Homo sapiens: one gene and its partners. The protein of the gene in region 1 purifies or fractionates together with the protein of each later gene. This does not show direct contact. Each region holds a gene or a part of one and is shown in the gene's direction. Other genes may lie near its edges. The genes, in order: SCYL3, ARCN1, PPIH, TRMT2B, JPH1, RAP1B and DDX54.

Region 1 (3,500 bases):
ATATGTGTAGTTTTGGGTTCAGTGTATGAATTATGCTTAATACTTTTCACTGAAATGAAAATTTGTTTTTTCATCTGTAACCTTTGATTTTTCGGGTAGATCATGCGCAGGGAGAAACTCCTTGCTTGCTCTCACCAGCCCTGTTCCAGTCACGGGTGATCCCCGTGCTTCTCCAGTTGTTTGAAGTTCATGAAGAGCATGTGCGGATGGTGCTGCTGTCTCACATCGAGGCCTACGTGGAGCACTTCACTCAGGAGCAGCTGAAGAAAGTCATCTTGCCACAGGTCAGAGGCCAAGTTTGCAGTGGGGTAGTCACAGAACCTGAGGGAAGAGTGCTGAAAGAAAGAGTTTTGGAGGTATTCAGATAATAGCTTAGAAAGCCTTCAGGCAGCAGTCTGTGGAATACAAAGTGCTGAAATTAAAATTGCATTTCCATTCCATTCACACAGGCAAATTGATTAAACTGACATATTTGGTCTTAACCTGGGAGAAACTATAATTGTTTGTTAATTTTGGGAGGGTAAATGAATAACAATAATGTATGGAGCACTTTGTGAACATAACATATAATTATCCATAATTATTATAAAGTAATTAAATTAGAACAGAGAGGAGCATGAGATGATTCTTATCAGTGGCTTTCAGCCTGTTGTTATCAGCCACTAGGGAACCTTATTATGATTTGCCCACCAAAGGGTTTTGTTAGTGAAACTAATGAAAGGTTTGTATTAGTTGCTTAGGCTGCCATAACAAATTATCACAAATTATAATGGCTTAAAGCAATACAAATTTATTTTTAGTTCTGGAGGCCAGAAGTCTAAAACCAGGGTGTCAACAGGACCCTGCTTCCTCTGAAGGCTGTAGGATGTGAAAGGGACTCCTCTTTACAAGCTTCTCGTAGCTCCCAGCAATCCTTGGTATTTCTTGGCTTGTGGCTGTATCATTCCAGTCTCTGCTTCTGTTGTCACGTGGCCTTCTTACCTCCTTGTCTGTCTTTACATGGCCTCTTAGAAAGACACCAGTCATTGAATTTATGGCCTACCCTAACCCAGTATGACCTCATCTAAAGGTCACATTCTGCATGGACATGAATTTTGGAGGGACACTATTCAACCTAGTATGAGGTTTTAAAAAAATTGTTTTAAAAGACTACAATCACATGGTGTCTTTCAAATAATTTTCCTATGAGATAGATTAACATTCTCTCTGCTTTCAAGGAGCTCATAAGTGGGACATGTTTCAGTCATCCGTTGCCATGTAAGTACCCCAAAACTTAGTGCCTTAAAATAATAATCATTTTATTAATTCTCATGATTCTTTGGATTGACTGGACTCAGCTGAAGGTTCTGTTCCACATATCAGCTGAGTCTTCAGTCATCTGGGGCCCGACAAGGGTTGACACATCCAAAATGGCTCCTTGGTATCTTGGAAGGGGTGGCTGAGAGGCTGCGCCTTTCTCTCCATGAATTTTCAGGAAGCTTGGGGGGCTTGTATCCCCCCATGTGACATTTCCACATGATTTCTCTAGCAAGGCAGGTGGACTTCTTAAATGGCTGGCCAGGGCTAAAGAAAAAAAAAGGGCAAAAGAAGCCTTCTTAAAGTGTAGGTTGTGAACTGACAGTCATTTTTGCCTCATTCTCTCGGTTAGAGTTGGAAAAAGCCCAGGCTCATTGTGGGATGGGTTTACTCAAGGGCATGGATACTGGAGGTGTGATTCGCTGGGGGCTGACTTTAAAGTCTCTGTGTTGTAGTAACTACAACATAGCACTTTGTATTTACATCTGCAGCAGTAATTGTTACCCTGTATGTAGTTGTGTCTGGAAATTTAGAAGAGGAATGAAGCACTTTAACTCTGAAATGGAGTTGTCATCATAGGTCTCAGAATTGGACTGAGGTCAAAGAGTAAATGTTGAGCATGTGGAAGACAATGAAACCTCTCATTACTTAGGAAACTGCTTCCCCTAAAGAAGAGTGGGCCAATTTGTGTGTGCTAGAAAGTTCACTTTGGTAGCAGTGTGGAAGAGACCACAGAAAGGGAGATAAGCTAGGAAGCTGTTAGAATAGTTTAGCTAAGAGATGACAAAGGCTGGGGAAAGTGTGACAGTGGATATAGTAGAGGGACACAGAAGGGGTAGTACTCAGTTTCTCATTAGATGGAAGAGGTGTTGAGGATGACCAATTTTTGGCTTGGGCGGATTGCTGTTTTATGATTATCATATTCAGTGGGCAGAACTCTAATCATATGTAAAAGAAACATGCTTTAGTTTACATGTACAGAAAGTGATCTGTTAGCATTGGTCCTAATAATTATCTTTTGAGTCCTGTTGGAAACCTTTAATCTTACTATATAAATGAGGAAACCAGGCCAGAAAAATAAAAAGACCAATTGGTCAAGTCACATTGAGAATTATTAGCAGAGCTAAGACCAAAACCAAAGATTCCTGATACCTGTCACGCCCTGCTGCTTCCAGTAGGCAGGCCAGTTACCCTGGCCTTGTGTCTGGCTGGTGCAGATGCTTTGAAGGTCATTTCCTTCCTTATATGCAGAGCAGTACTTGCCTGATATCTGCATGTGACTGTCTTCTAAGGTGTTTTTGGTTGCAAGTAACTGAAACTCATTTTAAACCAGCCAAAGCAAAAAAAATTTAAGAATGTTAGACTAACTTAGATGGAAATCAAGTGCAGCTGGGGCTTACAGCCATGTTTTTCATTCCTTTCTTCTGTCTGCATTTGTTTGACTTTTGACTCTCTGAAGACCAGCTTTCCTTGTTTTGGTGTGCACATGGCCAAAATGGTTGTCCCATAACTTCCAAGTTTTCTGTCCTCATAAAAAAAAATTATTTTAGAGATGGGGGTCTCACTGTGTTGCCCAAGCTAGAGTGCAGTGGCTCTTCACAGGCATGAACCCACTACCGATCAGCCCAGGAGTTTGACCTGCTCCATTTCCAACCTGGGCTGGTTCACCCCTCTTTAGGCAACCTGGTAGTCCCCAGCTCCTGGGAGGTTACTATATTGATGCTGAATTTAGTGCAGACACCCAATCAGCATAGCACACTACAGCCCAGAACTCCTGGGCTCAAGTGATCCACATGCCTCAGCCTTCTGAGTAGCTCGGGCTACAGGCACTTGTCCCTGCCTGGCATACTGTCCTCATTGAGTAAACCTATATAAACTGAAAATATAAATTCTAGTTTATATTACTGGACAAAAGATCATGATGGGCTCAGTTTGGGACAGGTGGTCCTACCCTTGAAAAGAGCTGAAAAGAGAAGCATGGACAGGAACATAACTGTTAGTACCCTAGATGAGTTCTGAGTGCGCTCTGCAGAACACTGCCAGTACATGAACTTTTTATTACAGTTCTGTGATGTGAGTACAGATATGAAGACTTAACATTTAAAACCTTTTGTCGCAATTTGACAGAGTAATTTTATGTACCCAACATATGTCTTTTTAATTTTGTTTTGATTGTATTTTTTAAAAATGGTAAGTCTGTGATG
Region 2 (3,500 bases), on another chromosome or scaffold:
CGGGTGGATATGCCTTTATTTTTTATTTTTTATTTTTTTGAGACAGAGTCTCACTCTGTTGCCCAGGCTGGAGTGCAGTGGCACCATCTCGGCTCACTGCAAGCTCCGCCTCCTGAGTTCACGTCATTCTCCCACCTCAGCCTCCTGAGTAGGCGCCCGTCACCACACCCGGCTAATTTTGTTTTTGTATTTTTAGTAGAGGTGGGGTTTCACCATGTTAGCCAGGATGGTCTCGATCTTCTGACCTCGTGATCTACCCGCCTTGGCCTCCCAAAGTGCTGGGATTACAGGCGTGAGCCACCACGCCCGTGAATATGCCTTTATTTGAGCAGCCCCCTATTGGCAGACATGTTTCTAAACTTTTGCCATTACAAACAATTCTTCAGTGAATAACTTAGCAGATTGTTTTGCACAGGTGAGAATTTATCTGTAGGATAGAGTCTGTTGAAGAATTGCTGTATCAAAGGGTATCGCCTTTTAAATGTTGATAGCTATAGCAGTAGCACCTTTAAAAAAACGTTGTTGATGGCTAATCATTAGACCTTGGAGAAAGGGAGTTCTGATTTCTACCTTTCTTTTTTCTTTTCTTTTCTTTTTTATTTTTTGAGACAGAGTTTCACTCTTGTTGCCCAGGCTGGAGTGCAGTGGGACAATCTCGGCTCACCACAGCCTCTGCCTCGTGGTTCAAGCGATTCTCCTGCCTTAGCCTCCCAAGTAGCTGGGACTACAGGCATGCACCACCACGCCTGGCTAATTTTGTATTTTTAGTAGAGACGGGGTTTCTCCATGTTGGTCAGGCTGGTCTCGAACTCCCCACCTCAGGTGATCTGCCCGCCTTGGCCTCCCAAAGTGCTGGGGTTATAGGCATGAGCCACCACGCCCGGCCATTGGTTTCTACCTTTCTGAACAAATGTATTACTTTCTCTTTATAGTGTACATATGAAGATTGAAGAAAAGATAACATTAACCTGTGGACGAGACGGAGGATTACAGAATATGGAGTTGCATGGCATGATCATGCTTAGGATCTCAGATGACAAGTATGGCCGAATTCGTCTTCATGTGGAAAATGAAGATAAGAAAGGGGTGCAGCTACAGGTGTGTAGAAGCTTTTGATAGGGAGTATTAACACTTTGTCTACCTATTATAGTCTTTCTCAACTAGAGTTCCCAATATGAACCACAGAAAATTACTTAAGTTATATAACTAGCATCACTCTAAACGCTTAGGAAAGAAGTTAATATATTGCATACAGTAGCTACCTGAGAGTGAGTAAAGCAGCTGTGTAAGGATGGCTTTTAAATATTGGAATTGAATAAAAGGTCATTTCGAAATCTAATAAATGACTTCATACTCACCAATAAAAGGTACAAGGAGGTGTTTGTCTTTTGCTGTTATGAAAACAGTAAATTAATCACTTAGGATCTTGCTTGAAATACAGTTTTAAAAAAACAAGGCTTTAGGCCAAGTGTGGTGGCTCATGCCTATAATACCAGCACTCTGAGAGGCTGAGGCTGAAGGATCGCTTGAGCCCAGGAGTTCAAGAACAGCCTGAGCAATGAGGGCTGAGCAACAAGACCCTATCTCTACAAAAACTTAAAAAATTAGCCAGGCGTGGTGGCACAATGCGAAATTTACTCATTCTGCTATTAAATAAACTGCCAGTGCTTGTTTTGTTAACTGAAGGGCAGTATCTAATGGTGTATTTGAAAAGTACATAAAATCCTTTCAATATAAGTGTGTGTGTTCCAACTATTGGATAGATATATATAAGCCCTGCTTTATGTTACAGGTGTTCTTGTAATTTCATTTCATTTAGCCGACATCTCGTCACAAGAACAAAGCCTTTTTACGGAAGAGTGTTTTTGTCTACTTTCCCCACCGTAGTCAGCACAGAATTGTCTTTTGGAAGCAGTGCTTATATTATTTGACATTTTTGCTGGCTTGTAAAGTGCTATCCAAAAGTGATTTCTGTTTTGTTTTGTTTTGTTTTGTTTTCCTGAGATGGAGTCTCTCTCTGTTGCCCAAGCTGGAGTTCTGTGGTACGATCTTGGTTCACTGCAACTTCTGCCTCCCCAGTTGAAGCAGTTCTCCTGCCTCAGCCTGCTGAGTAGCTGGGATTACAGGCACCTGCCACCATGCCCAGCTAATTTTTTTTATTTTTAGTAAAGATGGGGTTTCACCATGTTGGCCAAGCTGGTCTCGAACTCTTGACCTCATGATTCGCCCACCTCATCATCCCAAAGTGTTGGGATTGTAGTCATGAGCCACCATGCCCAGCCCTTCTGGGTTTTTTTTGTTTTTGTCTTGTTTTTTTGTTCTTTTTTTTGTTTTTTTTTTTGTTTTTGCACAGTCTCTCTCTGTCATGCGGGCTGGAGTGCAGCAGCACAACCTTGGCTCGCTGCAGCCTTAACCTCCTAGGCTCAAGCAATGCTTCCTCTTCAGCCTCCATAGTAGCTGGAACTATAGGTGTGCACCACCACACCCAGCTATTTATTTATTTATTTATTTATTTATTTTTTATTTTTTGAGACGGAGTTTCACTCTTCCTGCCCAGGTTGGAGTGCAATGGTGTGATCTCGGCTCACCGCAACCTCTGCCTCCCGGGTTCAAGCCATTCTCCTGCCTCAGCCTCTCGAGTAGGTGGGATTACAGGCGTGCGCCACCATGTCCAGCCCCAGCTAACTTTTGTATTTTTAATAGAGATAGGGTTTTGCCATGTTGGCCAGGCTGATGTCAAACTCCTGACCTTCAATGCCCCTCTCACCTCAGCCTCCCCAAAAGCAATTTCTTTTAAAAAGATAAGACTATCTTAATTGGCTTGGATTTTAACAACTTTAAGTCTCTAGGCAAAATTGCAACTAGACTTTACACAGAGCTTGCCCTTTTCTGCTACTTTATATAAGGCCAGAACTGCTGTCTGACCCAGGCAGCTGATCAGGGTCTTACTGGAGCCTTCTGCTTGGCAAACCTGGCCCCACCATGAACCTGCTCCCTGTGAAGTATTTTTGGAAAGAACTTGGTTAATAGTCTTTTAACTTTTTCAGGTGCAAACTTGTTCTGTAATGGCTTTTAGAGTTGAAATTAGCTTTTTTTTTAAAAAATTACTAGTTTTTAAGTATCTTAAATCATTTTAAAATAAGTCTTTGAAGAAGGGAAATCTTTCTTCAAAATGAAAAAGAATTGGAATTTGTTAGGTACTCTATTTTGGATGTTTAGATTGTGGGCCATATAAGCCTAGTGAGGGGTTGTTTCTCGTCTATCTGAACCTCAGGAGTTTTCCTTTCCCTCTCATTCTAGACCCATCCAAATGTGGATAAAAAACTTTTCACTGCAGAGTCTCTAATTGGCCTGAAGAATCCAGAGAAGTCATTTCCAGTCAACAGTGACGTAGGGGTGCTAAAGTGGAGACTACAAACCACAGAGGAATCTTTTATTCCACTGACAAGTAAGTGCCTCTGGCCAGTCCCACTAAGCTAGTTTGCATTGAGAACTAGAAA
Region 3 (3,500 bases), about 130 Mb from region 1:
TCTTCTCTTTCCCATTTGAAAGTTGCAGACTTCTTGACACTTTACCCCTAAGTATTTCAGCAAGGAACTCCTAAAAATAAGAACATCCTACGTAACCACAATATTATCTAATATATAGTACATTTTCAAACCTCCCCAATTGTCCCAAAAGTAACTTTTGTAGCTTAAAAAAAGGTGATCCAATCAAGGTTCCCATATTTCATTTCATTTGGTTTACACAAGTAACATAATACACTCTCATTGTGAAAACTTTCACACCAAACAGATAAAGTGAAAGCCCCTCTTGACAATACCCACCTGCAATTCCACTCCCCTTTCCAAAGGTCACTTCCTTATTAGTTTGATGTATGTCCATCAGGGCCTTTGCCTTGCCCATCTAATTTTGGGAGGTTTTCTTTTTCCCAAATGAAATCATACTATATTTTTCATGTTCTAAAAAATATGTCTTGAAAACTTTTCCTTCTTAGTTCATGTAAAACCACCTTGTATTAAAAAATGAAAACAGCCCGGCAGGAGGTGGCTCACTCCTGTAATCCCAGCACTTTGGGAGGCCAAGGAGGGCAGATAGCTTGAGCTCAGGAGTTCGAGACCAGCCTGGGCAACCTGGTGAGATCCCGTCTTTCCAAAAAAAAAAAAAATTAGCCAGGTGTGGTGGTGCATGCCTGTAGTCCCAGCTACTCAGGAGGCTGAGGTGGGAGGATTACTTGAGCCCAGGAGTTTGAGGCTGCAGTGAGCTATAATCACACCACTGTACTCCAGCCTGGATGACATCAAAAAAAAAAAAAAAAGGAAAAGAAAAACCGAAACTGCAGTGCAGGCTGAGCATCCCTAATCCGAAATCCCAAATGCTCCAAAATATGAAGCTTTTTGAGCACTAACATGACATTAGAAGTGGAAAATTCCACACCTGACTTCATGTGATGGATCATAGTCAAAAATCTGTTTCATGCACAAACGTATTAAAAATATTGTATAAGATTACCTTATACAATAGCTATAAGTAGCTAGGACTACAGGTGCATGCCACCACGCCCAGCTAATTTTTATATTTCTTGGTAGAGATGGGGTTTCATCATGTTGGCCAGGCTGGTCCCCACCTCAAGTGGTCTGCCCACCTTGGCCTCCTAAAGTGCTAGGATTACAGGCGTGAGCCACTGCCCCCAACTGAGCATTAGTTCTTAATTTTATATGTTGTAATTGTTTTCTTCAGAATATATTTTAAGAAAAAAATTAGTATTGTGTTGCTTAAGTTTGGTGATATTCTTTGTTAAAGAGAAGTTCTAAATTTTGATGAAGTCCAAATTATCAGTCTTTCACTGCTTTTCAGTTTTGTCTCATTTAAGGTCTTTACTACCTCAGATCACAATGTTTTCTGTGTTTTTTCTAGTATTTCTTTTTATATGGTGGAGCTAAGATCATTTTTCTAGTATTTTTAAAGTCTTATTTGTACATTTATAAAATCATCTATAATTAATTTTTCTGTATAGTGTTAAGATAGGACTTTTTCTTGTCTTTTTTTCCAAATGGAGATCCAGTCAAATACCTGACCATTTTAATGACTCTACAACACACCTTTATCTGTGACCAACTCTGTTCAGAAAGCTGGCACTTACAGGCATTCAGTAAAAATTTATTACATGAGTTAAGTAGAGAGGGAGAATGTCAGGCATTTTAGGCGGGGAACTCGTGTGAGCAAATGCTGAGGCTGGAATGCACAAGTGTGTGCTGAGAGCTACATGTGGACCTCTCTTGTTCAGCCAGATGATCCCTTCTCAGGCCCACTTGACACCCTGAGCTTTCCTTTCTGCCAATACTGGGTCCCCCTTGGGCCCAGCCTGCTCTCCCTCTTCAATGGCTGCTGGCCATTCCCTCCGTCTCCTACTCATTTCTTTGCTGTAACTAAAGTTGAGTTCATAGGTCCTTTCTTTTCAAAGACTGACCACTGATCACTACCAGAGGACAAACGATAACAAAAAGAATAAAGTTTAGAAATTCTTAATGTTGGGGCCTCTTTTCTGTATCTTTTTGAGTCTTTTACATAAAGTTACTGGAAGTCCTTGTTGAGGTTTTATTTCTGAGGGTGGGGATCATCAACCCTCCCCGCTCTCCCCCACTGTTAGCAAAAGTTATATGAACTTTTGCTTCCAAGAAAGCCCTTCTTCTCAGCCTGCAACCCAAGCAGAACGCATTCCTCAGGTGGCCATTGTACATTCCACAGGCCCGCTAGACCAGGACTGTCCATAGGCTGTGATGATGGAAAGATTCTAGATCTGGGAGGTCCAGTATGGTTGCTACCAGCCCCATGTGACAACGGAACACTTAAAATGTGGCTGGTGCAACTGAGGGACTAAACTGTTAACTTTTTATTTTTTATTTATTTTTTATTTTTTTGAGATGGAGTCTCGCTCTGTCGCCCAGGCTGGAGCACAGTGGCGCCGTCTTGGCTCACTGCAACCTCTACCTCCCGGGTTCAAGCAATTCTCCTGCCTCAGCCTCCTGAGTAGCTGGGATTACAGGCGCACGCTGCCATGCCTGGCTATTTTTTGTATTTTTAGTAGAGACGGGGTTTCATCGTGTTAGCCATGCTGGTCTTGAACTCCTAAGCTCAGGTAATCTGCTCATCTTGGCCTCCCAAAGTGCTGGGATTATAGGCGTGAGCAAACATTCCCAGCCTATTTTTTTTTTATTGACAGAACTAAGCTGTAGTTTATTAAATTTAAATTAGGCTGGATGTGGTGGCTCACACCTGTAATCCCAGCACTTTGGGAGGCCGAAGCAGGTGGATCGCTTGAGGCCAGGAGTTTGAGACCAGCCTTGCCGACATGGTAAAACCCATCTCTACTAAAATTACAAAAATTAGCCGGGCGTGATGACACACGCCTGTAATCCCAGCTACTCCAGAGACAAAGGCACGAGAATCTCTTGAACCCGAGAGGCAGAGGTTTCAGTGAGCCAAGATTGTGCCATTGCACTCTAGCCTGGGCGACAGAGCGAGACCCTGTCTCAAAAATAAATAAGTAAATAAAAAAATAATAAATGTAAAGAGCCAGTTGTAGCTAGTGGCTACTGTACTGGACAGTGAACTCTTTTAAATGTAAGCTTCTCAATCTACTCGCCCTGGCTTGCTTAGAACTGAATCTCGTAGCTAATACTTAAGGGCACTATAATTAAAGCAGTTATCCTTCAATGAATTCTTCCTGTGCCCGGATAATGAGCTAAGAACTTTACTTGAATTATCGCATTTCACTTTACCAAAAATCCCTCATAGGTTTTAAGGTGTTAGGAAATCTGGGTGGCAGTCTAATGTAAAGGGGTTCTACAGATGGGCACCCCATTTTGGGTTTCTGAATAATGTGATTTAAGAAAAATTAATGAAAGAGGAGATGAATTTCCCATGGAGCAGGGGTGTGGAGGGAAGGGAAGTGGTATTTTTAAGCCCTATTGGGCAGTATTTCTTTCTTTCTTTTTTTTTTTTTTTCGAGACGGAGTCTTGCTCTGTC
Region 4 (4,066 bases), on another chromosome or scaffold:
GGGAGGCTGAGGCAGGAGAATCGCTTGAACCTGGGAGGCGGAGGTTGCGGTGAGCCGAGATCACACCATTGCACTCTAGCCTGGGCAACAAGAGCAAAACTCTGTCTCAAAAAACAGAAAAATAGAAAATAAGTGGCAGATCTGGGCTTTGAATCCTATTCTGACTGACTCAATGTTTGCTGCTATTTGAAGTATTGGGCCTTGTTTAATTTACTACTGTACTCACTAAGGCTAACACATTGCCTTGCACATAATAGGCATGTTATGCTTTGAATAAATATTAATACATGAAATGTTGACTACAAAGTGTTTTCCACTTGAGCACAATTACTATTAAGCATAAAAATTAAATATCATTAAATGTACGTTCACTATTTTTTTTTTTTGAAACGGAGTTTCACTCTTTTTGCCCAGGCTGGAATGCAATGGCATGATCTCAGCTCACTGCAACCTCCACCACCTGGGTTCGAGTGACTCTCCTGCCTCAGCCTCCTGAGCAGCTGGGATTACAGGCGTGCGCCACCACGCCTAGCTAATTTTTGTATTTTTAGTAGAGATGGGGTTTCACCATGTTGGTCAGGCTGGTCTCGAACCCCTGACCTCAGGTGATCCTTCCGCCTCGGCCTCCCAAACTGCTGGGATTACAGGCGTGAGCCACTGCACCCACCTCGGTAGGTTCACTTTGCTGTAAATTTTACTCTATTAAAGCAACAATATTTTACAGCACACAGATGTGTGTATACTTCAAGTTTTCTTACTCGTGGCTGGGCTAATGACTCCTCTAAAAATTAGAGGTATTACTGAATGTAGTCCAGGAGGTAGTGAATCAACCAAAAAGAGACATCTGTCCTCTTTTTGAGTTCTGTAGTTGAAGAAAAAGATTATTTCTGAGGGTTTAGGATTTAATAGTCTTGAGTGGGATCCAGTGAAGAAACTATAAAGTATTTTTCTGATGCAGTGTTAAAAGAGAATGAATGCTTGAGAAACCCCACGGCCCAGAATAGATCTGGCTTTTACCAAAGGATGCCATTTCACGGAACCACCCTGTTTCTCATCTCCCAATCTTCCAACCCGTTAGGGATCTGATGTCTGCAATTCTATCATGAGAAAACTATTCCTTGAGTTGGAAGACTTAAACTGCAAGCACCCCTGGGATGGCTAACGCAGTTAACACTGCAGTGTGAACGTCTTCGTGAGTCTCTTATGTAGATCCACCAATGGGACGGTGAGGAAAGAGCAGGTGGTGGGCGGGGCCCCGGGGAGGGGAGGAGAGGAGAACTTAGAGAAGGAAGGCGGCGGGTGTCAGGGCTATGAGTGCTTTTAAGGAAGGTCTCCATAGAAGGTTCCCCCAGCAAAGTAGGGAGGGGTACTCCCCGAGAGGAGTCGAGGTGCCGGAGCCTGCTGCCTCGCCGACGCTGGGAGGAGCCCCGTGTCCCGCCGCGCTTGCCAAGGGTTGGCTGCGCGTGCGGCGGGAGTAGAGGCGCCTTGCGCACCAGGAAGTGACTGTTTCCCCGCCGCAGCAAACCAGGCCATCCGCTGGCCTTTTAGTTTGCCGCCTCAGGTTTGTAAGAGGATTTATTGGTTACGAAGGAAGGTAAGGTGGATAAATAGCCCGGAAAACCTGATTTAACCCTTGCTTTACAGAAAACTCCCTACTATGCCAAACTGTCCGCGGGGCGGGGAATGGAGGAGGCAGGCGGGGCTGGAGACGGGACCCGACGGTGACTGCGCAAGGTCGTGTACGGCCCAGCGTGGGCCTGTGCCCTAACTCCTCCCACTCCCTTACTTTCTGTCCTTCCCGGGCCCTGCAGACCGGCCAAGTTTAGTGGTAGCCTTTCCTAGTGTCTCCTCTTTGTTAACCCTTCCTACAGACACAGTGGGCAGAACTTGCCTAAAGAAGAAGGGAATGGAAGGGCTAGTGGAGTCTTGTTGGGGAGACAAGGACCTGACTGCCTGTGGGCTGCATTCGGGACACGACACAGCAGTCAACCCATTTGCTTGTTTGGTTTAGCAAGGAATAGTGTCTGGAGCCGGTCCAGCTGAAGGAAGGGTGAGCAGAGAGTGCAAGCAGGACCCTTGTCGGTGGGTGAACATTTTGCTCCAAAAGGGATCCTTGGCCCTGCGCAGGTGAGACCTACCACATAGTCTCTTTGATTTGAACCTCTCTGAGCACAGGAGAGTTAGCCTGCCTTCCTATTTGGGCTACTCTGGACTCCAGGACTCTTCCTGATCAATTCCTGAGGCAGGTATAGAACAGTCGAGCACGACTGCTCACACGCTTTTTTTTTTTTTTGCTGAGGAAAAAACTCCCAAGCATTTTTATTTTTTATTTGTTTGAGACGGAGTCTAGCTTTGTCACCCAGGCTGGAGTGCAGTGGTGCGATCTCGGCTCACTGCAACCTCCGCCTCCCGGGTTCAAGTGATTCTCCTGCCTCAGCCTCTGGAGTAGCTAGGATTACAGGCGCCTGCCACCACGCCCAGCTAATTTTTGTATTTTTAGTAGAGACTGGGTTTCACTCTGTTGGTCAGGCTGCTCTCGAACTCCTGACCTTGTGATCCGGCTGCCTCGGCCTCCCAAAGTGCTGGGATTACAAGCGAGAGCCACCGAGCCTGGCCCCCAAGCATTTATTTTTTATTTTTTATTTTTATTTTTGAGACAGAGTTTCACTCTTGTTGCCCAGGCTGGAGTGCAATGGTGTGATCTCGCCTCACCGCAACCTCTGCCTCCCAGGTTCAAGCGATTCTCCTGCCTCAGCCTCCCGAGTAGCTGGGATTACAGGCGTGCGCCACCACACCCGGCTAATTTTGTACTTTTAGTATAGACAGGGTTTCTCCATGTTGGTCAGGTTGGTCTCAAACTCCTGAGCTCAGGTGACCTGTCAGCCTCGGCCTCCCAAAGTGCTGGGATTGCAGGCGTGAGCCACCGCACCTGGCCCCAAGCACTTATTTAAAACAGGACAAAATATAAAAAGAAAATAGTCTCTTCTGTGAACAAATGTCTCCCCTGACATTAAGAAAGAAACAGAACTCACCTTGACTAGTATGAGTGTGCTGCCTTGAAAAAGAAATTTCACCACAGAAGTTACTAAATATGACAGGCTCTTTACCTAGAATGATGGCTGGTTGGCACCTTGAAATAATAAGGTCCTGTTTTAAACCATACTTGATAATTTGGAAGAGACCTAGATGGACAAGGACCCTCCTGCTGGGGTATAGGGCAAATGAACTACAGTCATGGCAGAGTCACCAGTGAGAGGACCCACACACTCACAAAAAAGTCTAAATGTCGTTGGGGTGGGAATAGCTATCTTCAAATTCCCCAGCTTCCTTGTCCCTCCTCTGCAAATCCTCAAATGGGCCTGCAGTTTCCTTCCTCCTGACTTTCCTGCTGACTGGAGGGACAGGACCCCTCTCCTGGATCAGCTCTACTCCCTTCCCCTGTAGTCTGGGCTTCAAGGCCACTGGCCTTCTCAGACCCACCATGTCATTCTTTATGTCTCTTGCCTCTTCATTCATTTCCTTTCTCTGGCTTTTGCCATCCTCCATATCGAATACGTACATTCTCACAGGCCACACACTTTTTTTTTTTTTTTTGAGAAGGAGTCTCTTGCCCAGGCTGGAGTGCAGTGGTATGATCTCGGTTCACTTTAACCTCTGCCCGGGTTCAAGCAATTCTCCTGCCTCAGCCTGCTGAGTAGCTGGGATTATAGGCGTGCGCCACCACACCCAGCTAATTTTGTATATTTTTGGTAGACAGGGTTTCACCGTGTTGGCCAGGCTGGTCTCGAACTCCTAACCTCAAGTGATCCACCCTCCTTGGCCTCCCAAAGTGCTGAGATTACAGGCCTGAGCCACCCCGCCTGGCTTTTTTTTTTTTTTTTTTTTTTTTTGGAGACAGGGTCTCCCTCCCGGGCTGGAATGCAATGGCACAATCATAGCTCACTGCAGCCTTCAACTGCTGGACTTGTGATCCTTCTGTCTCAGCCTCCTAAGTAGCTAGGACTACAGGTGTGTGCCACCACACCTGGCTAATTTTTAAAACTTTTTGTAGAGACCGGATCTCGCT
Region 5 (3,500 bases), on another chromosome or scaffold:
TGATAAATGAAATGCTTTTGGGGCACGTATTCCCCTTTGGTGTATGCATTTTTTGCCTGTGACCAGCAATAGCATCAGGGCATCCAGTTTGAGTGGTTTCAGCTTATCTCTCCAGACTGCCTAACCTGAATCCCACCCCCCAACGCAAGAACAATCGCAATTGACTGATTACAGGGGTCGTGTGTCACTCTGGAACTGAGCCTGGGATGTGATCACATGAATTCACTAACATGAGCCAGAGACAAGTCCAGATTATTCCTGGGCAAAATCTAGACATGCCAGTGGCCTTAGCTGTACAGGCTGGTGTTAACAGCAAACTCAGAGTGGGTTTCTGTTCTTCCTTCTTGTCATCGGTTCCAAAAGCTCTTGAGCAGACTTCAGGATTCAGGTTTGAATGTGGTCTTGACTCATCTGGCCAGCTATACAGTAGCACTGAGCCACAGAGCTGGGCTGGATAGAAAGGTCCTCCTTTGCTGTGTGGTCTTATAGGAAACAGCAAGTAAAAAAGTAAAGGGTTAAGTACTAGCAGGCTTCACTGATGCTGTGCTTCCAAAATATATTTGCAGAAAGGTTAAGCTGTATTTGTCTATTCTCTAGTTTAGCATATTATAAAAAGTGGTAGATATACTACTGCTGTTTTATTTGACTGTATGGTGGTGTGTCGTGATTGAATCCGAATAAGTTACTTGTACTTGAGTTTTGTAAATTTATCATTAAAGGGCTAATAGATAGTATTATAAAGCAGCATAGCTATACTCTTATGGCTTCATTAATTATGACACCTAGACATAATTAGGCTCTGGCTAAGAATAGCGGACAAAATGGAAAATCATTTGGGGGAAAAAAGTTTAGATTCTGAGAAACTGAAAGAACATTAGCGGAGGGCATCTGTTGATTATCAGGCACAACACACAGGACTAAGGCATTACCCATCGTACCTCAGCAATGGCACCCATGAGGGGTTATTCCAACAGCCAGTTGTTTAAGAATATGTCCCTCCCCTCTTGATGTTATTTCCATTTCATATTTCTTGATACCCCATACACAAATAATCTAAAGCATCCTCCATGGTTTAGAAATAGCAGTTTTGATGATTCGAAGTTGATCCACTCATTTTTAATGACTTTATTTTTTAGAGCAGTTTTAAGTTATCAGAAAAATTGAACAGGAACTGCAAAGTTCCCATACACCTCCTCTCCTCATGCACACACACAATATCCCCTATTATTAACATCTTGCATTTTGAGGTGCGTTTGGTGTAATTGATGAACCGGTATTAATATATTAGTATTAAAGTCCATAGTTTACATCAGGCTTCATTCACTGTTTGTGTTGTACAGTCTATAGATTTTGACAAATATGTAATGTCCCCCACTACAGTATCATGCAGAATAATTAAACTCCCCCAGATATGCCCTCCTTTCCACCAATTCATTCTTCCCTACTACACCCCGAACTCTTAGCAACTCTGAATCTTTTTACTGTCTCTATGGTTTTGTCATTCCATTCAGTTTTAAGAACTACCCAGCTTTTCCTAAGGAAGCATCATTCATTCCTTTATTCATAAAGTGGTCCCTCAATAAATAGTATGTGCCAATGTAGCGTTCTGCACTTTGGGATTATGACAGAGGACCAAAAATTAAAAATTCCAATCTTCACAAAGCTTACATTCTAATACATCAAGCCTTCAGGCTTGCTTAGATCCTAAATAGAAGTGAAAGGAGTCCCGTGAGAGCACAGGACAAGAGGAGGTTATTGAAGAGAGTAATGTGAAAAGGGGGCCTCCTACCAGTAGACCCCCTTGTCTCAGGCCAGGCCCGGTGCCTCCGTGTTTTGGTCCCAGGAGCTCCGCCTGCCAGCCTCCTCCAGCTGCTGCCCGTGTGTTCTCCCTGAAGAGCATCCAAAGCCCATGCCTTTTCCCAACTCCTCCTCTCTCCTGCTGTCTCCAACATAAGTGTAAGCACCTTTTTCAGACTTCCATTAAGTTTTCACTGCTAGTTATTTATAGCCCTGCCTAGTGCTAATAAAATATAATAGAAAATTTACAAAGTCATAAGAAATAGGTACCCATAAACATCTAAAGACTAACGGGACAAGGCCTTTCCCTTTGCAGAGCAGATAAACCAGAGTTTTTTTCTTCCCTCCAACCCTCTCTGGGGCCAGTAGACATCATTCCCTGGTGCAGCCATAAGAAGCCCTATTCTTTTTCCTGCCACTTTCCGCATAACCCTAGTCCTCCAGAAAGATGAGAGGTTTCCATGAGTGAGGACAGGCCAGGGAGGCGATGGAAGACTGAAAGATCCATTTCATCCTTGCCAGTTCTGCCTCGCTGTCTCCTTTTTGGTTCATACAAGAAACATGCCTAAAAGTCAGCTAAATGGGCTCCTCAGGAACCCTTCTGAGCATGTTCTTAGAGCGGGCCTTGTGGTTTGCTCCTGCTGGTGAGCACCAATAGTGCACATCTCCCCACTGCACATCCAACGGCATTATGCTGGTAGCCTGAAATTGGCCACGGTGAGAACATTTACACATGGATATGAATAAACACTACCAATCCCCATTTCACTAATTTTTTTCTTCAAAGAGCTACTTCACCAGCATGCCAGTGGGCAGATCTTTCTTAGTCAAATTCTTACATTGATTGTACCGTAGAAATGAATTTGATAAACACTATTAATTTATATGTTCTAATTCTACTTTCCATAATTTTAGGTGGGGGGGAGGAATGCCAACCAAAGTCAACAGGAGATTTGATCCAGTAAGTTTTGAAAACCACACTTAGCATCAAGCTACACAGACCTTGCTCTTACTTTTCATTTCCCTTGAGAGAAGGGCTAAGGCAATTCATGGGTAGTTTAGTTTCATCTATGTCATCTTCATTGAAATTTCACGGCAATAGGACTCTAAAATTTTTGCTCTTGTGGGTGTCGGGCCATAATCATAATTAACATTTCTTTTCCCAGATTACAATTTGCTTGTCCCTGTGTAAGTAACAAGGGGTCACCTATGCTGACTCGTCCTTTTGTGCCCCGTGTAGGACTGCACATGCCAGAGCGAAGGCCGATGCCGCCGACCAGGCCGCGCTGGCCGCTCGCCAGGAGTGCGACATCGCGAGAGCTGTGGCCAGGGAGCTGTCACCTGATTTCTACCAACCAGGTAAAACAGTGCTCCTTTGATGGGTGAGGCAGGAGCACTGGCTTTGGCTTGCTTTTATTTCCTTTTCCTTTCAACATAAAGATGTGTGCTTCCTGAATCCCAGCAGTACTATTATACAAAACAAGCAAGGGCGCCTGCGGTTGAGGATCCTTCATCTGAAGTGCTTGGGACCAGAAGTGTTTCAGATTTCAGATTTGTTGATATTTTTCTGTATTTGCATGTACACAGTGAGATCTCTTGAGCTGGGAACCCAAGTTGAAACACGAAATTCATTTATGTTTCATAGATACCTTATACACATAGCCTGGAGGTAATTTTATAGTATATTTTTAATAATTTTGCAC
Region 6 (3,500 bases), on another chromosome or scaffold:
ATCAGTTTGCACATTCTAATCACTTTCCAGTATCACAAGAGAGATTTTTACTTATATAATAGTCCTAGAGTTTGCAGCTGGTAAAACCAGAGGCTACATCCAGTATTACTGCTAAGAGACATTCTTCATCCACCAATGTTGTACATGTATGAAAATGGTGTACTGTATACTTTAACATGCCCCATACTTTGTATTGGAGAGTACAATAATGTAAATCCTAAAAGCACCACTATTTTAGCATAATAAAAGAAAGTCCAAAGAGCTCCTATATAGACTACTCCAGATAACTTCGCTTCTTTGATACTTGTAGCTTATTGTAATTTTTTTTAAGAAATTCAAGGTCATTATTATTGTACAAAATAAGCGCTTTGATTAACACAGCTATATAGTTTTTTTAATTTTTAAAAAACCTGTGGAGACGGTGATCTTGTCTTTAAAACATGATAGTCCTTTCAGTATAATGTCTTAGATTAAAGACGTTGCCTTTAATATCTGTTGGGAAGGAAATGTCCAGACTTTTCAAATCTCTTATTATATGTTTCCTTTTTTTGTTTACATAGGGAACAATGTTTATAGTCGTGTGTACAGTGGGGGTCTACAACAAGAAGTGTATATTTTCAAACAATTTTTTAATGATTTAACAATTTTTGTAAATCATTTTCAGGCTTCTGCAGCTGTAGATTCTCACTGTGAATCCCTTGCTTGCTCATGCATAAGTGTATTTGCAATACCAAATATACAGGTTTAGTATTTTTGCCTGTTAGTGATTGTTTCACATGTGTAACGTTTTGGTTGAGATGTTAAATGGTGGACGAGTACTGTGGATGTGAATGTGGGAAGTAATTTTAATCATATGTAATTGGTCACAAGGCCTAATTTGCAGTAACTATTGCTGTTTTATTTAACAATGCCTTGTTGCTTTGTATGCATTAATGTTTGGATGTAAAGATTGTGTGTCTATCCAACAGGGAGCCACAGTATTTAAATTGACCAACCTAATGTTACAACTACTTTGAGGTGGCCAAATGTAAACTAAAAGCCTTAATTAAAGTGGTGCAATTTTGTATAACTTAGCATCAGTAGTTCAATAAATTTGGATTGCCATGCAAGGGCTTGCATTATAATTACTTGCCACTTGAATGTGTTTTGTGTAATGTTTTAACAGTGCTAGTAAATAAATACGGGTTTACCCTGGTTTTAATTGTAATAGGTGCATTTTACACAGCATGGTTTCATAATTTAACATCTGGGCAAGCCAGACTCATTAATTACAGGAATAAGGAAGTAGCGAGTTTTCTGGTATTGTTTGAATATCCACATAACCACCTTTTGAACTTTTCCTTGAGAAATAATTTTGTAAATCAAGCAGTATTACTTACGAATAAATGCCTTTGGGTAATGTTCAGTAGCTATTTGATGAGGTAGGTAAAAGAGGAACGATTTAACATACTTTCATGGATGTTACACTATGGATTTTTTAAAATACAGGATTGAAGTTAGAATATTGTGGTTATAAAAATCTTTGAGTGATGTGGATTAAGCACTTAGAGAATCGATATTTTTCTTAAATATGCTATAATTGAATTCTGTAAGAACTGAATTCTTATAGAATTATTTTAAAACTTTTTAAAAATTGTAAAGCTCTTAAAAAACTTTTTGAAAGTATTTGCCAGCTACTGGAGCAATTAATCAGTGATAATATCTAATAGAGGGGTATCTGCTAATCCCCTAAATACACGCTGTTTGAATGATACATTTTTAAAGGCTTTCATGTTAAGAAAAAGTCTGATTCTTTACAAAAGGGACTTGTTTTGGCAGAACTGGTTTTATTTATAATCATTTGGGAAAAAAATTAAGCCCAAAAAACTGGGACTGTGAAACACTAAAATTACTTCAATTTACTATGTCCTGTTACATCCATTGATACCGCCATTATTCAATAATTACTTTTAATAAATGTTTGCTGCCTACCAGCTATGTACCAGGCCCAGTTCTAGGCTCAAACAGCTAAATATTCATTCATTGGACAAATTAAGTACTTAAGTATAAAAATTGTTCTAGGCCTAAGGATGTAGCAGCAACCAAGATCAACTATAAAATGCTGCCCTCCTAGAATTTATATTCTATTGAAGAGTTTCTCAGCCTCAGCACTATTGATGTTTTATGTTTGATAATGTATTCTGGCGACTCTCCTGTGCATTATAGGAATTTTAATATCTGCCCACTAGATGCCAGTCACACCACCCCAGCCCCCAAGTTGTGGCAACCAAAAATGTTTCCAGACATTGCCAGATGTTCCCCAGTTGGATTGTTGGGGGACAAGGGAGGTGAACTTGGAGGGCAAAATCACCCTGGTGAAGAACTACTGCTCTGGTGGGAAACAACACATTAGTTACAGATGAGTGTTAGGGTTACAAGATGGATGGTTTACTATATAGTGAATAAGAATATAAAGTTTGGAGCCAGACTTCCTGGGTTTTTAATCCCAGCTCTTCCAGTTCCTACTATATGCCTTTGGTTGGGTGCCTTGGTTTCCTCATCTGTAAAATGAGAATGATAATACCTACTTCATAGGAGAGTGAAATGAATGCCAGTGCTATCCTCTAGGTCTATATATATATATATATATATATATTATATATAGTACATATATAGAGAGAGTATATATATATATGTAGTACAGTGGAGGTCTATATAATACTATATATATAATTTATTTTTTTCAATGCTGATAGGAATAAGGCTGTGGTTTGGCAAAAAGCACCATTTTCTCCTATACAAAATAGTAACTGCAGTTTGGGAGCACAACTCATGTAGATTGACTTTTCTGGTGCTTAATGGGAAAATACTAAAATAATTGAGTCAGAAAAGGCATGAATTCCTTTTCACGTCCCCAAGGATACTTGAAGAAACTTGAGTTTTAGGAGAAAATCAGAGTGGTCTTTCACTTACATTTTTCTAAAAAGTGTAAAAACCCTGTATTGACTTTCTTGTTGATTCAGTTGTTTCTTAAACGTAAATAGCTCATCTTTACCATATGTGGGCATTACAAATAGAAATTTTTAAAATTCCATTTATAAAATGAAGTTTTGCCGTTTTTTTTTTTAAATCATTCCGTCTTTAGTTGTGGGACAGCAAACTTAGAATCGAAACTCATCACTACAACTTTTCTTTGAGTTAAACTCTTATCTGTGTTTTCATTGAATTTAATCTCCATCTATTCTATCTCTTCTTAAATCTTGGAAATGTAAAAGGGAGTTATAGTGTTTTACAATTAATACTCTTACTATTACCTTAGAAGCCTTAAAAGTGCTTGCAGGCTTGTCTCATAATCTGTCAGTGAGCCTTAACATTGTGATTTGTAAGACTAAAATTTTTTTTTCAAACAAAACAAATCTGACAGCCTGGGCAACATAGACCCCATCTCTACAAAAAAAAATTTTTTTTTAATTAGCTGGGCATGGTGGTGCACGTCTGTACCTGTAGTCCCAGCTATTCAG
Region 7 (3,500 bases), on another chromosome or scaffold:
CATGGCTCACTGCAGCCTTGACCTCCTGGGCTCAAACGATCCTCCTATCTCAGCCTCCTGAGTAGCTGGGACTACAGGTGCATGCCACCACACCCAGCTATTTTTTTTTATTTTTTGTAGAGATGAGGTCATGTTGCCTAGGCTGCTCTCAGACCCCTGGGCTCAGGTGATCCTCTTGCCTCAGCCTCCCAAAGTGCTGAGATTACAGGCGTGAGCCACGGTGCCTGGCCTGGGTCTCTCTGTGTTTTTGTTTGGTTTTGTTTTTGAGATGGAGTCTCGCTCTGTTACCCAGGCTGGGGTGCAGTGGTGCAATCTCGGCTCACTGCAACCTCTGCCTTCTGGGTTCAAGTGATTCTCCTGCCTCAGCCTCCTAAGTAGCTGGGACTACAGGTGCCCACCACCACACCTAGCTAATTTTTGTATTTTTAGCAGAGATGGGGTTTCGCCGTGTTGGCCAGGCTAGTCTCGAACTCCTGACCTCAAGTGATCCACCCGCCTCAGCCTCCTCAAGTGCTGGGATTACAGGCATGAGCCACTGCGCCTGGTCTGGGTCTGTCTATCTAATTGTGAAGTGCAGATAATGGACACTGGGGAAGACTTGGGGAAGAACGCCCATAGGAAGCCCACCAAGTGGTAAGGGTGGGGTTAGGAGTAGGAGGCCAGTGGGCAAAGGACTGGGTGTCCCCTCCACAGACTATCTTTGAGATCAACGCCTCCAGCCGAGACCTGTGCAGCCAGGTGATGCGCGCCAAGCGGCAGAAGGACCGCAAGGCCATCGCCCGCTTCCAGCAGGGACAGCAGGGGCGGCAGGAGCAGCAGGAGGGCCCAGTGGGCCCAGCCCCGAGCCGCCCAGCACTGCAGGAGAAGCAGCCTGAGAAGGAGGAGGAGGAGGAGGCGGGAGAGAGTGTGGAGGTACAGGTTCCACCCTGGGGACCCTGGACCTGGGGTATGGGGAAGGGGTGGCTAAGTCCCAGCAGCCCATGAGGCTGTCCTAGGATCTTTGAGCAGTGGATGGAGGTGGATGCAGTCAGCTTCCCATCTGCAGAGTCGGGGCATGGTTCTTGTCCACCATCCCTCGTTTAAAACTCTGGGGCCAGATCTTTAGCCTGAGGAGCTGTGCACGACATGACACCCTCAGTGGGGTCCGGGGCATCACCAGCCACCAAACACATCAGGGCTTCTGCAGTGAGACGTGTAGGTCTCCACTCAGAGGGAGGACCATGAAGTGTCCCATTCACCTGGTGGGTGGGTCCTGGGCCTGTGCGTCCCCCAGGATGTCCCTCTCTCATGTTTTGTTTGGACAGAGGGTTCAGTAGCCAAGAAGACCAGTTGGAGACCCCTGGCCTAGTCCATGTTGTTCAGAGCAGGCCAGGCGCAGAGAGGGGCAGGGCCGGCTGTCACATAGCCTGGGGTGCGGAGCTGGAATGGGGAGTTGGGTCTCCCTCGGCCGGCACTCTCCTCCTCACCCAGCTGTCCTGCCTCTGCTGGTCCCTGAGGCAGGGGTTGCACTGTGTGTGCAGATGAGGAAACTGAGGGTCCCACAGGAGACACTGTCACCCAGCTAAGAAATGGCAAAATGAAGCTTTGAAAGTCCCCGAGAAGCCACTGGCCCCTCACTGTGGCCAGGCTGGTGGGTAGGGAGGCAGGGGGAAGTCCCCAGGGGGCAGCAGGCATGACACTGGGCCTTGGTCTGTGCTCTGCCAGGACATTTTCTCAGAGGTCGTGGGCCGGAAGCGGCAGCGGTCAGGACCCAACAGGGGAGCCAAGAGGCGGAGGGAGGAGGCCCGGCAGCGGGACCAGGAATTCTACATCCCCTACCGGCCCAAGGACTTTGACAGCGAGCGGGGGTGAGTGGCTGGCTGGGTCCTGGGTGGGGCAGTTGGGTCCGCTGGGTCCCATCAATCCAATTATGTCTCCCACTCTCCCTCTGCAGCCTGAGCATCAGCGGGGAAGGGGGAGCCTTTGAGCAGCAGGCAGCTGGCGCTGTCCTGGACTTGATGGGGGATGAAGCCCAGAACCTGACGAGGGGCCGGCAGCAGCTCAAGTGGTGAGTGATCGAGTGAGCCGCCCCTCCATGCTCGGGGTGAGTGACCGAGTGAGCTGCTCCTCCGTGCCTGGGGTGAGTGATCGAGTGAGCCGCCCCTCCCTCCATGCCCGGGGTGAGTGAGTGAGTGAGCCGCCCCTCCATGCCCGGGGTGAGTGATCGAGTGAGCTGCCCCTCCAGGCCCAGGGTGAGTGAGAGAGTGAGCTGCCCCTCCATGCCTGGGGTGAGTGAGCGAGTGAGCCTCCCCTACCTCCATTCCCTGAAGTGAGTGAGCGAGTGAGCCGCCCCTCCATTCCCTGGGGTGAGTGAGCGAGTGAGCCACCCCTCCAGGCCCAGGGTGAGTGATCGAGTGAGCTGCCCTCCATGCCAGCAGGCAGGGTGAGCTCCCTGAAGTCCTCACTCCCATCTGATCCTGCACAGCCCAGATTATGGCCTGGCTGTCCCCCATGTGACCACTCACAGCAGGTGTGATGGCCCCTGGCTGTGCTGTCCCCTTGATTTGATCACACACCACAGAGATCTTGACCCCGTCTATTCTTTTTGCTGGCAAGTCTTTCTAGACAGGGCTCAGGACCCATTCGTTCAGGACTCTAGCGTCTGGAGAGTGTATGTGACTCAACCCAGGGTCACAGCTGGGTAGGGGGAGGGGATTGGAAACCCTCCAGGAGGCCCTTGTCCCTGAGCCAGGCCCCAGTGCTGGCGGCAGTCCTCTGACCTCCGCACTCCCTTTTGAGACCTGGACTGCAGGGAGAGGTGAGGAGGGATAGGGAAGAAGCCTTTATTGAGCGCCAACTGCATGCCAGACATGGCTGCACTGCTTTCCTTTAATGCTCCAACAACCTGACAAGAGGGTCGGGTGAGGAGACAGGCCCCAAGCGGCAGCCGGCACTCCAAGGGTTTCCCTCCACGGCAGCCGTCCCAACTCCCTCTCCTGCAGGGACCGTAAGAAGAAGCGGTTTGTGGGACAGTCAGGACAGGAAGACAAGAAGAAGATTAAGACAGAGAGCGGCCGCTACATCAGCAGCTCCTACAAGCGAGACCTGTATCCTGAGGGGCGTGGCTGGGGAGGGGCGGGGCCGAGGAGCTTCAGCAGGAGCAGCTTCAATTAAGTGGAACCTGGGGGCGGGGGCGGGGGCGGGGAGGAGGGGGCGGGGCTGAGCGGCTTAAGCAGCCGCATCTCCAATAGATGGGACCTGGTGCTGGGGGCGGGGCCGAGCAGCTTCAGCAGCAGCATCTCGAACTAGTGGGACCTGTGCTGGGGGCGGGGCCCAGCAGCTTCAGCAGCAGCATCTCCAGTAAGTGGGGCCTGTGCTGGGGGCGGGCCCAGCAGCTTCAGCAGCGGCATCTCCAATAAGTGGGACCTGGTGCTGGGGGCGGGGCCGAGCAGCTTCAGCAACAGCATCTCCAATAAGTGGGACCTGTGTGCTGGGGGCGGGGCCGAGCAGCTTCAGCTGCG

Evidence for each region.
Region 2: the proteins of SCYL3 (region 1) and ARCN1 purify together in Homo sapiens (affinity purification with mass spectrometry; one large-scale study listed by BioGRID and IntAct). This does not show direct contact.
Region 3: the proteins of SCYL3 (region 1) and PPIH purify together in Homo sapiens (affinity purification with mass spectrometry; one large-scale study listed by BioGRID and IntAct). This does not show direct contact.
Region 4: the proteins of SCYL3 (region 1) and TRMT2B purify together in Homo sapiens (affinity purification with mass spectrometry; one large-scale study listed by BioGRID and IntAct). This does not show direct contact.
Region 5: the proteins of SCYL3 (region 1) and JPH1 purify together in Homo sapiens (affinity purification with mass spectrometry; one large-scale study listed by BioGRID and IntAct). This does not show direct contact.
Region 6: the proteins of SCYL3 (region 1) and RAP1B purify together in Homo sapiens (affinity purification with mass spectrometry; one large-scale study listed by BioGRID and IntAct). This does not show direct contact.
Region 7: the proteins of SCYL3 (region 1) and DDX54 purify together in Homo sapiens (affinity purification with mass spectrometry; one large-scale study listed by BioGRID and IntAct). This does not show direct contact.

What each region holds. Positions count from the first base shown.
Region 1 is NC_000001.11:169,859,397-169,862,896, reverse strand, and holds part of SCYL3 (protein-associating with the carboxyl-terminal domain of ezrin), read left to right. Parts: intron 1-99; coding exon 100-284; intron 285-3,500. UniProt on the Homo sapiens protein: May play a role in regulating cell adhesion/migration complexes in migrating cells.
Region 2 is NC_000011.10:118,589,409-118,592,908, forward strand, and holds part of ARCN1 (coatomer subunit delta), read left to right. Parts: intron 1-932; coding exon 933-1,098; intron 1,099-3,300; coding exon 3,301-3,448; intron 3,449-3,500. UniProt on the Homo sapiens protein: Component of the coatomer, a cytosolic protein complex that binds to dilysine motifs and reversibly associates with Golgi non-clathrin-coated vesicles, which further mediate biosynthetic protein transport from the ER, via the Golgi up to the trans Golgi network.
Region 3 is NC_000001.11:42,668,423-42,671,922, forward strand, and holds part of PPIH (peptidyl-prolyl cis-trans isomerase H), read left to right. Parts: intron 1-3,500. UniProt on the Homo sapiens protein: PPIase that catalyzes the cis-trans isomerization of proline imidic peptide bonds in oligopeptides and may therefore assist protein folding. Participates in pre-mRNA splicing.
Region 4 is NC_000023.11:101,049,312-101,053,377, reverse strand, and holds the start of TRMT2B (tRNA (uracil-5-)-methyltransferase homolog B), read left to right. Parts: upstream 1-1,266; 5' UTR 1,267-1,561; exon of another isoform or gene 1,562-1,594; intron 1,595-1,641; exon of another isoform or gene 1,642-1,644; 5' UTR 1,645-2,127; intron 2,128-4,066. UniProt on the Homo sapiens protein: Mitochondrial S-adenosyl-L-methionine-dependent methyltransferase that catalyzes the formation of 5-methyl-uridine in tRNAs and 12S rRNA. Catalyzes the methylation of uridine at position 54 (m5U54) in all tRNAs.
Region 5 is NC_000008.11:74,259,041-74,262,540, reverse strand, and holds part of JPH1 (junctophilin-1), read left to right. Parts: intron 1-3,037; coding exon 3,038-3,156; intron 3,157-3,500. UniProt on the Homo sapiens protein: Junctophilins contribute to the formation of junctional membrane complexes (JMCs) which link the plasma membrane with the endoplasmic or sarcoplasmic reticulum in excitable cells.
Region 6 is NC_000012.12:68,659,399-68,662,898, forward strand, and holds part of RAP1B (ras-related protein Rap-1b isoform 1 precursor), read left to right. Parts: 3' UTR 1-3,500. UniProt on the Homo sapiens protein: GTP-binding protein that possesses intrinsic GTPase activity. Contributes to the polarizing activity of KRIT1 and CDH5 in the establishment and maintenance of correct endothelial cell polarity and vascular lumen.
Region 7 is NC_000012.12:113,161,479-113,164,978, reverse strand, and holds part of DDX54 (ATP-dependent RNA helicase DDX54), read left to right. Parts: intron 1-693; coding exon 694-912; intron 913-1,704; coding exon 1,705-1,847; intron 1,848-1,933; coding exon 1,934-2,047; intron 2,048-2,981; coding exon 2,982-3,086; intron 3,087-3,500.